Linked DNA regions of Homo sapiens. The protein of the gene in region 1 purifies or fractionates together with the protein of each later gene. This does not show direct contact. Each region holds a gene or a part of one and is shown in the gene's direction. Other genes may lie near its edges.

Region 1 (3,500 bases):
TCGTCATACTTCCACCTCCAAGGCAGCACGCACTGGAGCAAACCACGCTCTTGCACAATAACATGGTTTATTCAGTTCTCTGCTGTCTGGGAGTATTAGTGTTCTGTCCACAACAGTAGGACATGCTGATAAACCACAGTCACGGACTGAAACCTTTCATAATAGGTGTTTATGCATGAGGTTAACTTTTCTTCCTATTGAGTAACTTAACAAGGTTGGGCTGCTTTTTACCGTGATGTAAGCAGTAAATTATTTCAGAGCCATGTTTGATCTCTAGCTTTGTTTCCTAGTTCCGCAGCTCTCTGTACTTGCTCATGGAGACCCTCAATGCGACGACGCCCCACTACGTTCGATGCATCAAGCCAAATGATGAGAAGTTACCCTTTGAGTAAGTGTTCTTATGCAACACACAGCGAAGACGTGGGAAGGCAGTTTCTGCCATAAAGTTGGAGAATTTGCTTCCAATTGTCTTGAGATTACCCTGTTTCTGGGTTTTTTTTTAATGATTCAGAACAATGCTGCCCTTTACATAAAATGTTAGCTCAGCCCCTCTGGTTAAACCCCCTCATCTCCAGGGCTAAGCAAAAGGGCTAGATTTGAAAGAATCTTCTACAACTAAAGTTTTTGCAACTTGAACCTTTTACTTGATTAAAAGAAGAATGAGTATGTGTGTTTGTAGAAGGTCATAGAAGGTCAGAACATTTGTCCTCAGACATGATGGCATGAGGCATTATTCTTGTTCTCTGGGACCCATGGAGGAGACCCAAAGCTTGTGAATATAAGGTGTAACAAGTCCCTTGTAGCTTGCTAGAGCTGAAAGAGGTGCCTAAAGGGGGATGAGCTGTCTATGGAGGTGGTGAGTGTGTGTATGGGTCACCAGATGGGTGAGACCTAAGCTGCAGAGCTACCTGTTGGGTGTTCTGTAGAGGAAATTCAAGCATCAGTGGGTGCTTGGGCCAGGCGAGCTAGCATATTTCTTTCCACCTGGTTGTCGTTTGAAGCTCACCTCAAAGGCCAGTTCCCCCATGGCCTTCTCAATGCCACCTCCATCAGAGTCAGCTGCTCCTTTCTCTATATCCCACTGCATCTTTATGGACTGTTTTGCAGAGGTGCTATTTTTCTTGGTCATGCAATAGAAACTTATTAAGTATCTGCTGGGTACCTGGCATAGGGTCACAGTCTAGCCAGGTCTGCTGTGCCTGTTTATGGGCATGTTGAGCAATTACGATGCCTCAACACATAATATCATTGTCTTTTTAAAGATTTGACTCCAAAAGAATTGTTCAGCAGCTGCGAGCCTGCGGCGTTTTAGAAACGATTCGCATTAGTGCACAGAGCTACCCTTCCAGGTATGTTGTCCGTCCTTGTCTTGGAGGGAAAAGTACCTGACATCAGAGCTATGCTGAGAACCAAGGACATGGCTGCCATGATTTTTGTCACATACTTTTGGCTTCTGTAAAGTGCCCCCAAGATTTTCCCACTGCCCTGTGGAAGTCCAGAAGAGGTTGAGAAATAGGCTTTGTAGGGGTCGGAGGTCAACACCACCTTCTCACCCCATCACTGCATCTCGGCTGCTGGTGGTGGCCCCACCGCCTCCCCCGTGTACTAGGGAAGACGCTGAGTGGGAGAAAGAGCACAATTGCTGGGGCAGACAGGAGTGCTCAGGGTGGTCTTGGTAGTGTCCCAGGCAGGCAGGGTATCAAAGATCAGTGCCTTTATCCTCAGGACAGATTGCACCACCCCCGCCCTATGACAACAGTGGCAGGTAAGGCAGCGGAGTCCCCAGACACAATGTGCTTCCTCTGACACTCCTGGCTTTGATCCCCTTTGATTTTCCAGGTGGACATACATCGAGTTCTACAGTCGCTACGGCATTCTCATGACCAAGCAAGAGCTTTCCTTCAGCGATAAAAAGGAGGTGTGCAAGGTGGTTTTACACAGACTCATCCAGGTCAGTTTCCCCACCTCCTGGGATCATGGTCTCCTTCCTGGAAGCACATCTCCCAAACATGCTGTTTCATCTTTGTCTTGAATGCTCAGGACTGTAATCATGAACACCTGAAAGGAAAGAAAATGTGCCCTGAGCATTTGTCTGCTGAAGAGACCATAGCAGAGTGCTCAGTGGGCCATGAGTCCCCGTTAGGGACCCACATCCGAACTCCGGCCTCCCCAGTGTCCTCGTATCCTGTTTAGCTCTCCCACGATCTAACCCAGTCCTCTGTGGACCAGGCTTATAGGATATGGTCAACTGGGGTTGTCACCAAGCCACATGGGCTCCAGGCATGGTGCCTTGTGTGGATTGACATCATTGCTGCAGCGATGAGTTGTGATGGGAAAGAGATGGGGAGTTATAAGGTCCAGCAAAGGGGATGGTGAAGAGAACCCAAAATGGAGACAGAAAACCAAACTTCCCCAGTTTCTTCTACTCCAATGTGGAGACCACGAGAGAGTGGCTGAAGTTCTCTGGCAGCCCAACTGAGAATCGCCGCAAATGACACTCACTCCCCTTCTCACCCACAAATGGATTCCTCAGCCTAAGTCCCATTTCTTCCTCCAGGGTAATTTTAAACAAACAACTCAAAGTATACATTTCTAGATCATGATGTGAGTTTTCTGCCTTAAATGTCAAAATCACAATATTTCTGGCACCTTTGAATCCCTAAAGCTCTTTTCCAAATACTGTATTATAGAAAATCTGACAGATTTTAATTCTAACTATATCATTTTTCTCTTCCAGGATTCTAATCAGTACCAGTTTGGTAAAACCAAAATTTTCTTCAGAGCAGGACAAGTGGCTTATTTAGAGAAACTTCGATTGGATAAACTGAGGCAGAGTTGTGTTATGGTACAAAAGCACATGCGTGGCTGGCTCCAGAGGAAAAAATTCCTCCGAGAGAGACGAGCCGCCCTGATAATCCAGCAGTACTTCCGGGGTCAGCAAACTGTGAGGTATGTTGGAATCAAGGAACACATGTGGAACTGTGGGGCTTTCTGTGCTGATCATCTCCGGCGGGGAGGACTCATCAAGGACAAGGGACCTTTCTCCTGTGACCCAGGGTGCAGACGTGCATGGGTCCCCTTTGTGGTCGTGAGCATTAGGGCAAGAAAGGTCCGTCTCTCAGGGGCAGGTAGTGCTGGCTCTGCCTGGTGTCTGTGTGGTGAGCCGACACCCAGGGCCCTGCAGGGAGGAAGCGCTGGTGAGAGTGTTACTAAGGAGAGTCAGGGTTCCGGAAGCTCAGGGAGAGGCCCGGGGCCCCTTTCCTATGGGAACTGAAAATGCATAAGATCAGCAAGGCCCTAGTGAAGATCCAAAGGACAGATGTCAAGAATAGCCAGCGACCAGCCTGCCAGCAACAGGTGGGGTGCACCATGGCAGAGGGGGTCCCTGCAAGGCCTGGCAGCAAACCAATCACAGAACCCCTAAGCAGGAAGACCACAGCAGCCCCAGCCAAGCCAAGGGCTGAGGGGAGGGTGGTCCACCAGCTGCGCTGATCCTACCT
Region 2 (3,500 bases), on another chromosome or scaffold:
TAGATTCCCATTGGTGGCTTGAAAACTAAATAACAGAACTCAAACCTGCTATTAGTGGTGAGAAAAGCATTTTCTTTAAAAGGCATTCACAAACATTTTTTAAAAAAACATTGTAACACTTGTATGATCATCCTAAGGTTTTTTTTTTTCTGGGCGGTGGAAGGGATCGTTTTTTAAATGTGTTTTTTGCTTTTTGTTTTTTTGTTTGTTTGTTTGTTTGTTTTGAGATGGAGTCTTGCCCTGTCGCTGGGCTGGAGTGCAGTGGCACGATCTCGGCTCACTGCAACCTCCACCTCCCAGGTTCAAGCTATTCTCCTGCCTCAGCCTCCCGAGTAGCTGGGACTACAGGCACATGCCACCACACCCAGTTAATTTTTCTCTTTTTAGTAGAGATGGGGTTTCACCATGTTGACCAGGATGGTCTCCATCTCCTGACCTCGTGATCCACCCGCCTCAACCTCCCAAAGTGCTGGGATTACAGGTGTGAGCCACCGCGCCCAGCCTTAAAGGTTTTTTTTAAATGCATGTTTTTACTCAAGTTTCTCCATCATTCAAGCCAAATGAGGGCGCTCCTTATTAACTCCTTGTTATATCGTAGCTTGGTTACAGAGCTGCATTGTGAATTTCCTTTTCCCTTTTATGTCTTTTTTTTTCCCCTGGTAAATAAAATATTGGTAAATTAGTTCCACTGATTATGATAGCAGAGGTTAATATAGCCCTATGGTCAAAGTCTTGGATATATTCATATCTGGAGCAGATTAAGGAATTTTGCTAACTGACTTCAACTTCTTAGCAATCTTAAAATGTAAGCTTAAATATCTTGTAGGTGTCAGTGAAAGAGGAGTATGTTCATCTTGTGGCCACAATTCAGCAATTAGTGCAGATAAGAATGATCTTGTTTGAAGAGCAGTGGGGAAAAGCTGGGTAAATGAAGGAAGGTATATGTGGGAAGTTCATGTTTCTTCCATGAATTCTGTGCGTATTGTTTAATAATAATGCTGTTTCTTTTTTTTTTTTTGAGATGGAGTTTTGCTCTCATCGCCCAGGCTGGAGTGCAGTGGCATGATCTTGGCTCACTGCAACCTCCTTCTGCCTCCTGGGTTCAGGTGATTTTCTGCCTCAGCCTCCCAAGTAGCTGGGATTATAGGCGCCCACTACCACGCCCAGCTAAATTTTGTATTTTTAGTAGAGACAGAGTTTCACCATGTTGGCCAGGCTGTTGTTGAACTCCTGACCTCAGGTGATCCACCCACCTCATCCTCCCAGAGTGCTGGGATTACAGACATGAGCCACTGCACCGGCTTAATAATGCTATTTCTTTAGCCATCTCCAAAGGCAGAAATATTCACAATAGCTTCTTAACCAAAAAGCACTCATTGAAATTCTTATTCCTTGATGAGTCATGCTTTGCATGCTGTTTGAAGTAAGTACAACAGACATGCTCCTAGTGAGAAGTCAGACTCTTACTTAGACTTAGCGAAAGACTCTCCCTCCTTTCCTGCCTGCCAATTTTGTGTTGAAATATTGACTTTGGATTGCAAATACTATATTGCGGTGAACGAACTTTCAGGCTTATTGTAAAACACAGTTCAGAATTTTAGGCACAGAACGGAAAGGTCCTGTGGAGGACCTGCTGGCCATGCTTTCTGTGACAGCTATTTTTTAACCTAATTTTATAAGTGAAAAAACAGAATGAGAGAATTTAAATTACCTTTTTGATGCCGTCTACCTGGCAGGTGGTTCGATCTGCTATTTGGACCTGAGTTCTGTATTTAAGTCCTGTGTTCTTTCTGTTAACACTCCGGGGACTCCTGACTGCCTTTTCAGAACTTTATGTGTTGCTTCATTGTTGTTAGTAAAGTTAACTGTATTTCTGTTTAAAGAACTCTTACAAAAAAAAATCTCAGCCTTATGAATTTGATTCACCTAATTAGAGAAAACCCTCTGTGTAATCTTTACTTGGTTTAGGTTCCCCCCCCCCACCCCCCTGCCGATATGTGAATGCCTAGACTATTTCCTTGTTACTTTGCTTAAATTTAATCTCTAGAAAAAAATTACTCTCTAGGTTGTGTTTCTCAGGAAATAATAATAGCTAGCATTTATCGAGAATTGTATGTCAGCCCCTGTGCTAAATGCTTTATATTATCTCATTAACTTTCACAACAACCTGGAAAGTATTATCTTTGTTTTATAGGCTAGAAAATTTAGTCTTAAGAGAGGTTAAGCTACTTACCCAAGATACTGTAGCAAGTAAGTATGGCAGAGCCACTACACTAGATCTTCCTTCCGTAGAAGATGAACGTTTGACATGGCTTGGTGCATAGTAGGAATTCAAATCTTTGTTGTATGAATGAATGAACAAGAATTAGGAGTATGGTTTTTAAAAAAACTGTGCATCAGAAACACCCCATACCCAGTGACTCAGAATCTCAAGGGTTGGACTATGAATATTCATTTACATAGGCTTCCTAGATGATTCTTCAGCAGCCCATTCAAGGGCTAACTTTGCAGAAATTCTGAAACCTGGTATTGGCGGTGGAGTTGGAGCAGAAGAGATAAGTTAGGAAAAGATTGGTTTTTTCCTTTCTTTTTACGTTTCTTCTGGCAGTTATATTTCGTGTTATTTTATTTACGGGTAGCAAAGGCTTTGTAGTTATCTGTTGTTGAGTTCAAGCTCTATCACTTAATAGCTATATGACTTTATACACTTCAACCTCTGCAGGTCTTATTTCTTCCCATCTGTAATTTGGAGATGATAGTGTATACCTTATAGGTTTTTTTTGTTTGTTTTTGAGACTGGGTCTCTGTTGCCCAAACTGGAGTTCAATGGCAAGATCATGGCTCACTGCATCCTCAAACTCCTATGTTCAAGCTGTCTTCCTGCCTCAGTCCCCCGAGTAGCTGGGACTACAGGCACATGCCACCATGTGTGGCTACTTTTAAAAATTTTTTGTAGAGATGGGGTCTCACTGTGTTGCCTCAGGCTGGTCTCAAACTTCTAGCACAAGTAATCCTCTTGCCCTGACCTCTTAAAGTGTTGAGATTACAGGAGTGAGCCACCATGCCCAGTTTTGTTTTGTTTTGTTCTGTTTTTTGATAATGTGTGAAAATGGTTCAGCACAGTGCCTGGCACACAGTAAGGGCACAATATATTTTAAATATAATAATTGGTTGGCTTTCTTTTTTTTTTGAGTTTCAGTTCTTAAAGAAAGGAATACAGTGTGTTATGCTTATTTTCTTATCTCCTGCAGGCCTTGGCCTGCCTACCACACACAGTTCTCTGCACAGTCAAAATGTTTTTGCTGATTTGAGAGATTGAAGGAGGTATAGCTAGGACTTGGCAGTTGATTCCAGTGGATTGTAAATAGGCATCAATGAATAGTTCAAGATTGTAAGCCTGAGTGATTGGGACAATAAGGGAGTTAGTTTTAAGAAACTGAGTAAAATTGGAATTTGTTGTTGAATTTGGAATGATGATTTATAATTGGAAACATTCTAGA
Region 3 (3,500 bases), on another chromosome or scaffold:
ATCCCTGTCCCTGGTTCCTCTTCAGTCATTCGGCTGAGACCGCTGAGAACTTAGACGTCTTCTCCACTTGGTCATTCTGTTGAGTCTCCTGTCTTGTGAGTTGGATGCCGTCACTCCATTGAGCGAGGGAGGCACTGGGCCCAGAGCAGTAAACACGCCTGCAGGGCAGACAGAACAGGCAGCCAGTGAGGGACGGCTGGACTTCAGCCCCTGTTCCAGCCGAAACACCGTGGGTGCCCCTGGGTCCCCACCCACTGCGTCCCGAACGCTCCCCTTCTAGGTCCTTCTTTCCAAACCCCTCAGTAAAATGCTGAGCCTGGTTGAACCCACCGCTGCTCTTCCACATGAGCCCTGGGCGGGTTTGTGGGGAAGATTGACACATTTATGGGTTGACGGCAGCCCTGAGTTTCAGTCACTTGCTGGCCCCTACCGGGCACCACCCGCACAGCCTGTTCTTCCTTACTCTCCCCTTCTCCTCCAAGCCTCTCCCATCCCCCCATCCCTGCCCCAGTCTCCTGTGGCACCCCAGCGATCACCTCCAACCCAGAGGACAACCTCCCTCCCGCCTGCAGAGCTGAGCAAGCAGCCAGGTCACTGCTCTGTCCCCAAACCACAAACCCAGCCACTCATGCATGGTTCTTTCAGGTGTTCAAGAGGTGGCTCTGGGGTCACACAGGCCAGGGCTTGAAATGACTTGACTTCTCTAGGCCCTGAGTTTTTCATCTGTAAATAATAACGGTCGCTGCATAGACTGTGTGTGGACGCTTTTGGCACAGTGCCCACCGAAGCGCCTGTGTTCATTCACATCATTCACATCTTCCCAAACATACACATGCATTCATTCATTCATTCCACTCATCCAACAATTGCTTGTTGATATCATTATATACATTACTGTTATATATTACATAAAATCATATATTCATTCAACATTTATCTATTATATATAAAATACAATTATATATTTATACGATACATACTATTTAATATGTAAAGGTGTGTGTGTGTGTACATACACACATATGCATATGCTGTGTTCCTTCTTGAACTCCTGGGCTCAGGTGATCCTCCCACCTCACTTCCTGAGTCACTGTGGTTACCGGCGGGGGCCGCCATGCCCAGCCCACATTCTGTGTTCCCTCTGTGTGCTACAAACTGTTCCAGGCCTGCAGTTATGAACAAGATAGGTGAGAATCCCTGTTTCATGGAGCTTATCTTCTCATGAGGGAGGCAAACCAATAAAACACGTTGGTGTCAGATGCGGACAGATCTGTGGAGAACAGTGAAACAGTGCTGAGGAGGAGGGGTGCAGGGGGAATTGGAATCCAAGGGCTAGGAGGTGCCTTGGACAACCCCAGTCCCTCATCCAGCATAAATGGGGACAAGAGCATGGTGGGGTCAGGTGCAGTGAGAGTGGCAGTGAGGCTGTAGGCATTGGCTGGGACAGGGCAGGGGTCTTCCCTTGCTTCATGGAGCCCTGTGCCCCTCCCTCTGTGATCTGAGGCAGGAGTGCACACAGTCCCCCACGCTGCTTGTCTTTTGTCCTGCGTGGAGGGTGGTGGCAGGGCAGGAGTGCTCTGAGGAGCTGTCCCGCCCCCGTCCTCTGGTTCTGTTTGAGTGGAGGGGCTGGGCTTCCTGGGCTCTGGTCAGTGCCTCGATCTCATCCTTCCTGACCTCCAGACACCTGGGAGGATCCTTCTCCTGTGTCTTCAGCTTTTCTGTCAGCTTTTTCCAAGCATTTAAGGATTCTCTAGTTGAATCCATCCTTAAAAAAAAGAAGGTTCTGCCTGGCCTCCTGCTCCCCCTGGTGACTGTCCCCTTGCCCTGCGTTCTTGCCTTTCCTTCCAGGGTGAACTTTGGAAGCAGTTGTCCATGCTTGCAGCATGCTTGCAGTGTCCTCTGCCCCTCCTACAGCTTCACTTTCTGGATGTGGCTTCCCATTGCACCTGCTTTCATCATGGTGACCCCCGGCATTCCCATCCAGTGGACATGTTAGTCCTCACTCCCCGGTTCCGGTGCCCTTCGGCACAGCTGCCCACTCTCTTCTATGGTGGCTCCACATTCTTCCACCCCCATGGCTCGAGCTTCCCTCTGGCCCCTTCTCCAGCTCCTGCCTTGCCACCCCCCGCCTCGCTTCTCCTTTGTCCCAAGTATCCTTTGGGGGCCCACGCCTGGCTTGCTGCCTCTGCTTCCCCGCTCCCAGTCCACTGTGCTTTGCGACTTCCCCTCTGTTTTGAGGGAGGATGTCCTTGGTGCCATCCTCTGTCCCCGCATCTGGGGAAGCACTCTGCACCGCTGCAGCCCAGGCCGTCCTCGGGAGAGTGGCTTATTCGGTGGACCCCTCTTGAGATGCAGGTCTTTGGGTCACCTGCCCCTTTACTCACAGCCTAGCCTGGCCTCTGCCAGACACAGATGTCCTGATCATCATTCCATTGTATTCACTCACTACTACCCTAAGCTCCCTCCCGGCAGCCAGGGGCTGCCACTGCATAGGTCAAGTTGGCTGCCTGGGGATTGTGGCCAGTAAAGCCCACAGGGGACCCCGAGCTGCCCATTTTCATGGTAATTGAAACACTGTTCTAAAACAATATTCCATATACCCTGAGCAATATTTTTTACATAACAAACACATTTTGGCAGGAATCCTAGGAAGCGTCTCTTCCTTGGAGACTTCATTTGAGAGAAGGCTCAGCAGACTGTGGCGTTTTTTTCCCCCCAGAGAGCAGTTTGGGATCCCATATGGAAGAGCCAGCAATGGGGGCCTCGGCAGCTCAGGACACATGTTGTTCTATTTTCAGCCTTCCTGAACACCTCCTCCTTTGGCATATGGAAGCTGCCGTAAACACTAGGAAGGCCTCTGTGCTCATGGAGCCTGCTTTTCTCCAGCGAGCCCCGCGCAGTGGGGCTGCATCCCGTTAGCCAGTGCTGCCGTGAGTGCCGCCACTTTCTGCTACCTGAGCATCTCTAGGGCGCTGACCCCAGAAAAGCTCAAAACCTTAAAGCACTGCACAAAGGGACCAGCTAGAGGCGGCAGCAGCTGCATGCAAGAGCCCAGCTTTGAATGCAAAAGACTAGGGCAGGAATCCCACCCTCACTGCTTCCCAGGCACAGCCGGGAGTCAGAGCACCCCTTGGAGCCTCCACCTGCCCGTCGGAGCCTCTGCCCCCCGGCCGTGAATGCCAGGAGACGCTCTGGGGGTGAGGCACTGACCACGTGGCAGTCCTTGCTGCTACTGCTGTTATTTTTGCCCATTTCCAAAACTTATTTCTTCCTTGAAATAAATCATTTTCCTGCTGGAGAATACCAGTGGCCCAGAAACCGCTCATCACATGGGGTTCTCTCTCTCCGTTAAGTCTCCAGTGTTCCGGCACCGGACCCTGGAAAACTCGCCCATCTCCAGCTGTGACACCAGTGACACCGAGGGCCCCGTGCCGGTGAACAGCGCGGCCGTCTTGAAGAAGAGCCAGGCTGCCCCGGGCAGCTCCCCCTGCCGAGGGCAT
Region 4 (3,500 bases), on another chromosome or scaffold:
GTGACCAAGAGGGCCGGGCCTGGGAGGGTGGCTTAAAACCACAGTGCACCGGGGGCTCCGGGCTCTCCGTTCTACAGTGCCCAGACCAGGACCCCCTGCAGGGAGGAGGGGCATCCCAAGGACAGCCTCTCAGGATGCTCCTGGCAGCCTGGTGCTGGAGGTGCAGAAGAAGAAACTGAGGCCCAGGCAGGATGAGTGACTGGGCCAAGGTCTGCTGGTGAGGGCCCGGGCTGGGGACATGCAGATCAGAACCCTGGCTTACACCTGTCAGGCTGCCTCCTGGAAGGAGCCCACTGGCCCCCTGGGGCAGTTGGACAGGTGGAGGGCTGAGGGGCGGTGCGGGGAGTAGGGGCTGGACTGCCGGAAACACCAGGCTTGGTCGTGGACCAGGCTGGGGAGTGGGCCTGAGACCTCAAGGGCAGGTGCTCCAGGACACTCTCCCAAGGCAGGAGGGGAGGAATAGAGCCTCCTGGGGAGGCAGGCGCTTGGGTGCTCGACCCCGCTCAGCTCCCGTGACCTCAAATGCCCTTCAGCCTGGGGTCCCCTGACTTACCGGGTTGGGCAGCACTTGAAGCAAAGCCATGTGGGACCTCCAGTCACAGCCCAGCCGTGCCCAGGTGTGGGACTGTGGGCACAGACCCAGCTTCTCTAGGACCCAGCCGCCTCCAGTTCCCCACCTGTTGTGGGAGGTATAAAGTGCCTGCCTTGGAGGTGGTGGGAAGCCGAGGGCCAGGGTGGAGAGTGCTGGGCCGGGGTGGAGGCTCAGAGCGTGTCCCTGCCAGGCCCGGCCCCCTAGCTCCCTCCCCGAGGCTCCACGCTGCTGTTCTCAGACGCTAAATATAAGATCTAAGCCATACATGGTTGCAGGAGGGCCTGGGATGCCCCTGACCTTCGAGGCCAGTTCCCAGGGTCTGTGGTTGGGGACAGCGGCTGGGGGGATGTGGTGGCGTGGAGCTGATGTCAGAGGTGCAACCCGCCTGTCCTGCTGTTCTGTTTTGGGGAAAGGCACGTGTTGGGGCTCTTCTGGGCTGGGCCTGTTACCTACCCGGGTGTTCCCAGGGCTGGAGTCAGACCTGTTGCGACTGAATCCTGGTAAAACCCTGAGTGCCAAGGGTTTCCGTCTTCCTGTTGGTGTGGGCCCCCTACCCACATGCAGACGGGCAGACTGAGGCCCAGGGGAGACCTGGGAGTCGCCCCTCCTCCCCAGCCACGCTGCTGACGCTGTGGGCACCCCAGGCATGCCTGAGGTTTGGAATCTCCCTGTCCATATTGTCCACTGGGGCGGGGGAAGTGCCCTGGGGTGAGATAAGGCAGCCTCAGATGCGCCGTTTTGTCGCATCATTACCGTGGGTAATGTTCCAGCCAGGGGAGCCTCCCGCTCCCCCGAGTCCTCCCCAAGCTCATCCGGTCCCGTCACTCTGCAGGGGCCGTGCTGGCCTCGTGCTGCAGGTTTCTGAGCCGGCTCCTCCCCTCCCAGCCCTGAGCCTCGGGGTCCTCATGCGCGCAGTAGGGCCCTTCCTGCCTGCCGCCTCGGTTGCTGAAATTCGGTCAGGGATGGGTACAGGGAAGCCTAAGATATAGTGGGGGACACAGTGCTACCCCTAACCCTCAGCATGGCACGTGAGCAGGAATTGCAGCAGAGAAACTGAGACCGAGGGAAGTGGCCCCGCCTGCGCTGGTGGCCAGGAGGACAGCCCCCATCCCCTCCCCGCTGACGGCTCCCTGCCCTCTGCCTGCAGCTCGGCAAGATGTCGGTGAAGGAGGGCGCACAGCGCAAGTGGGCAGCGCTGAAGGAGAAGCTGGGGCCACAGGATTCGGACCCCACGGAGGCCAACCTGGAGAGCGCGGACCCCGAGCTGTGCATCCGGCTGCTCCAGATGCCCTCTGTGGTCAACTACTCCGGCCTGCGCAAGCGCCTGGAGGGCAGCGACGGCGGCTGGATGGTGCAGTTCCTGGAGCAGAGCGGCCTGGACCTGCTGCTGGAGGCGCTGGCGCGGCTGTCGGGCCGCGGCGTTGCACGTATCTCCGACGCCCTGCTGCAGCTCACCTGCGTCAGCTGCGTGCGCGCCGTCATGAACTCGCGGCAGGGCATCGAGTACATCCTCAGCAACCAGGGCTACGTGCGCCAGCTCTCCCAGGGTGAGCCGCAGTGTGGGAGGGCCGCCCAGGCGGACGCTGGGGACCTGGTATGAGGCTTCAGGCCCAAAAGGCCCCGGGAGGCCTGGGGAACCACCAGGAGGAAGCGCAGCCAGGCAGGCAAGGAGGGCTTCCTGGAGGAGGACTGGCTTCCTGGGCTCAGGAAAAACATCCACATTCACTCCGAGTCTGAGGCTTCCAGGTCACCCCAGTCCCCGCACTGCTGCACCAGCGGTCCCCCTGTGCCCCTCTCTGTTGTGTGGCTCTGCCCCACCCTTCCTCCCCGTCCTGTGCTGGCTCCCACCCTCTGGGCTCTCTGCCCTCGTCCACACCTCGGCGGCAGGAGTCACTGAGTCAGAGATGCGAATCCACCCGAGTGGCTCCCTACATACACCTGCCTAGCTCCAAGCCCTTCAGCCTCAGCCCAGACAGAGCCCTTGAGGTCTGGCCCACACCTACTGATGGTGTCACCCTCCACCTCCCAGCGCCTTCCCTAGCGCCTCCCTCCCCGCCCTGTCCCCTACTCCAGCACCCAGGGGACTCGTTCCCGGCAGGCAGGCAGGCCCTTGGTCTCTGCCTCTGCTCGTGTTTTCTGCCTTTGCGTCCTCCAAGGTCCTGCGCCGCTAAGCCTTTAAGCCCCAGCTCACTTTCCTGTCCTCCAGGAAGTCTCCCCAGGCTGTGCCCAAAGTTAGTCCCGGTCCCTTGAGAGAAACCCTTGCTGTGCCACTCCATGGCTGCTGCCAGGTCCTACCGATGCTTGGGGACGAGCTAGGGTGGGCAGTGATGGGCGGGGCTGGGCCCATGGGGGCGGCAGTTACCTGTGCAGGCAAGCAAGCCAGAGGCGCCTCGTTTCTGTCGGACCCAGGGGACAGAGGCAGGTGTAGGGGCCAGCCATTCTCAGCCCGTCTCCCCAGCCTGGGCCTGGCAGGGCCCCTCTATGGAGTCTTTTGTGAATTGTTCTCAGCAGGGTCAGATGAGAGACACCCCCAGAACTTTCACAGCTCCAGATGGGGTGGGAGGCAGGGGTTCATAGGAATGAGGTTGTGTCTGCCATAAACACAGTAAGTGCTGCATTGGGAGAAAAGCTGGGCCCAGAGCCAGTGACAGGATGGGGCAGCTGCCTCCAAGCCCTTCCCTGCAGGGTCTGGCCCTGTGGTCCAGGAGCAGGGCCAGGACACCGAGGAGTGGGGCACCTCGTTGGGTCCCAGCCCACTGCTGTGGGCCACAGACAAGTGCCCGGCACCCCCTGGCGTCTGCCTGCCAGGCCCAGAGCCCCAGCCCTGAGCCCAGCTGCACAGGCATGGGAAGGGGTGCATTGGCCCTGCTGAGCCTGCCCACTCCACCCTGGCAGCCCTGGACACATC

The links.
Region 2: the proteins of MYO5C (region 1) and ACTR3 purify together in Homo sapiens (affinity purification with mass spectrometry; one large-scale study listed by BioGRID and IntAct). This does not show direct contact.
Region 3: the proteins of MYO5C (region 1) and AFAP1 purify together in Homo sapiens (affinity purification with mass spectrometry; one large-scale study listed by BioGRID and IntAct). This does not show direct contact.
Region 4: the proteins of MYO5C (region 1) and INF2 purify together in Homo sapiens (affinity purification with mass spectrometry; one large-scale study listed by BioGRID and IntAct). This does not show direct contact.

Annotation. Positions count from the first base shown.
Region 1 is NC_000015.10:52,243,805-52,247,304, reverse strand, and holds part of MYO5C (unconventional myosin-Vc), read left to right. Parts: intron 1-290; coding exon 291-388; intron 389-1,262; coding exon 1,263-1,349; intron 1,350-1,839; coding exon 1,840-1,951; intron 1,952-2,737; coding exon 2,738-2,949; intron 2,950-3,500. UniProt on the Homo sapiens protein: May be involved in transferrin trafficking. Likely to power actin-based membrane trafficking in many physiologically crucial tissues.
Region 2 is NC_000002.12:113,893,089-113,896,588, forward strand, and holds part of ACTR3 (actin-related protein 3), read left to right. Parts: intron 1-3,500. UniProt on the Homo sapiens protein: ATP-binding component of the Arp2/3 complex, a multiprotein complex that mediates actin polymerization upon stimulation by nucleation-promoting factor (NPF).
Region 3 is NC_000004.12:7,768,862-7,772,361, reverse strand, and holds part of AFAP1 (actin filament-associated protein 1), read left to right. Parts: exon of another isoform or gene 1-158; intron 159-3,353; coding exon 3,354-3,500. UniProt on the Homo sapiens protein: Can cross-link actin filaments into both network and bundle structures. May modulate changes in actin filament integrity and induce lamellipodia formation.
Region 4 is NC_000014.9:104,699,618-104,703,117, forward strand, and holds part of INF2 (inverted formin-2), read left to right. Parts: intron 1-1,739; 5' UTR 1,740-1,748; coding exon 1,749-2,139; intron 2,140-3,487; coding exon 3,488-3,500.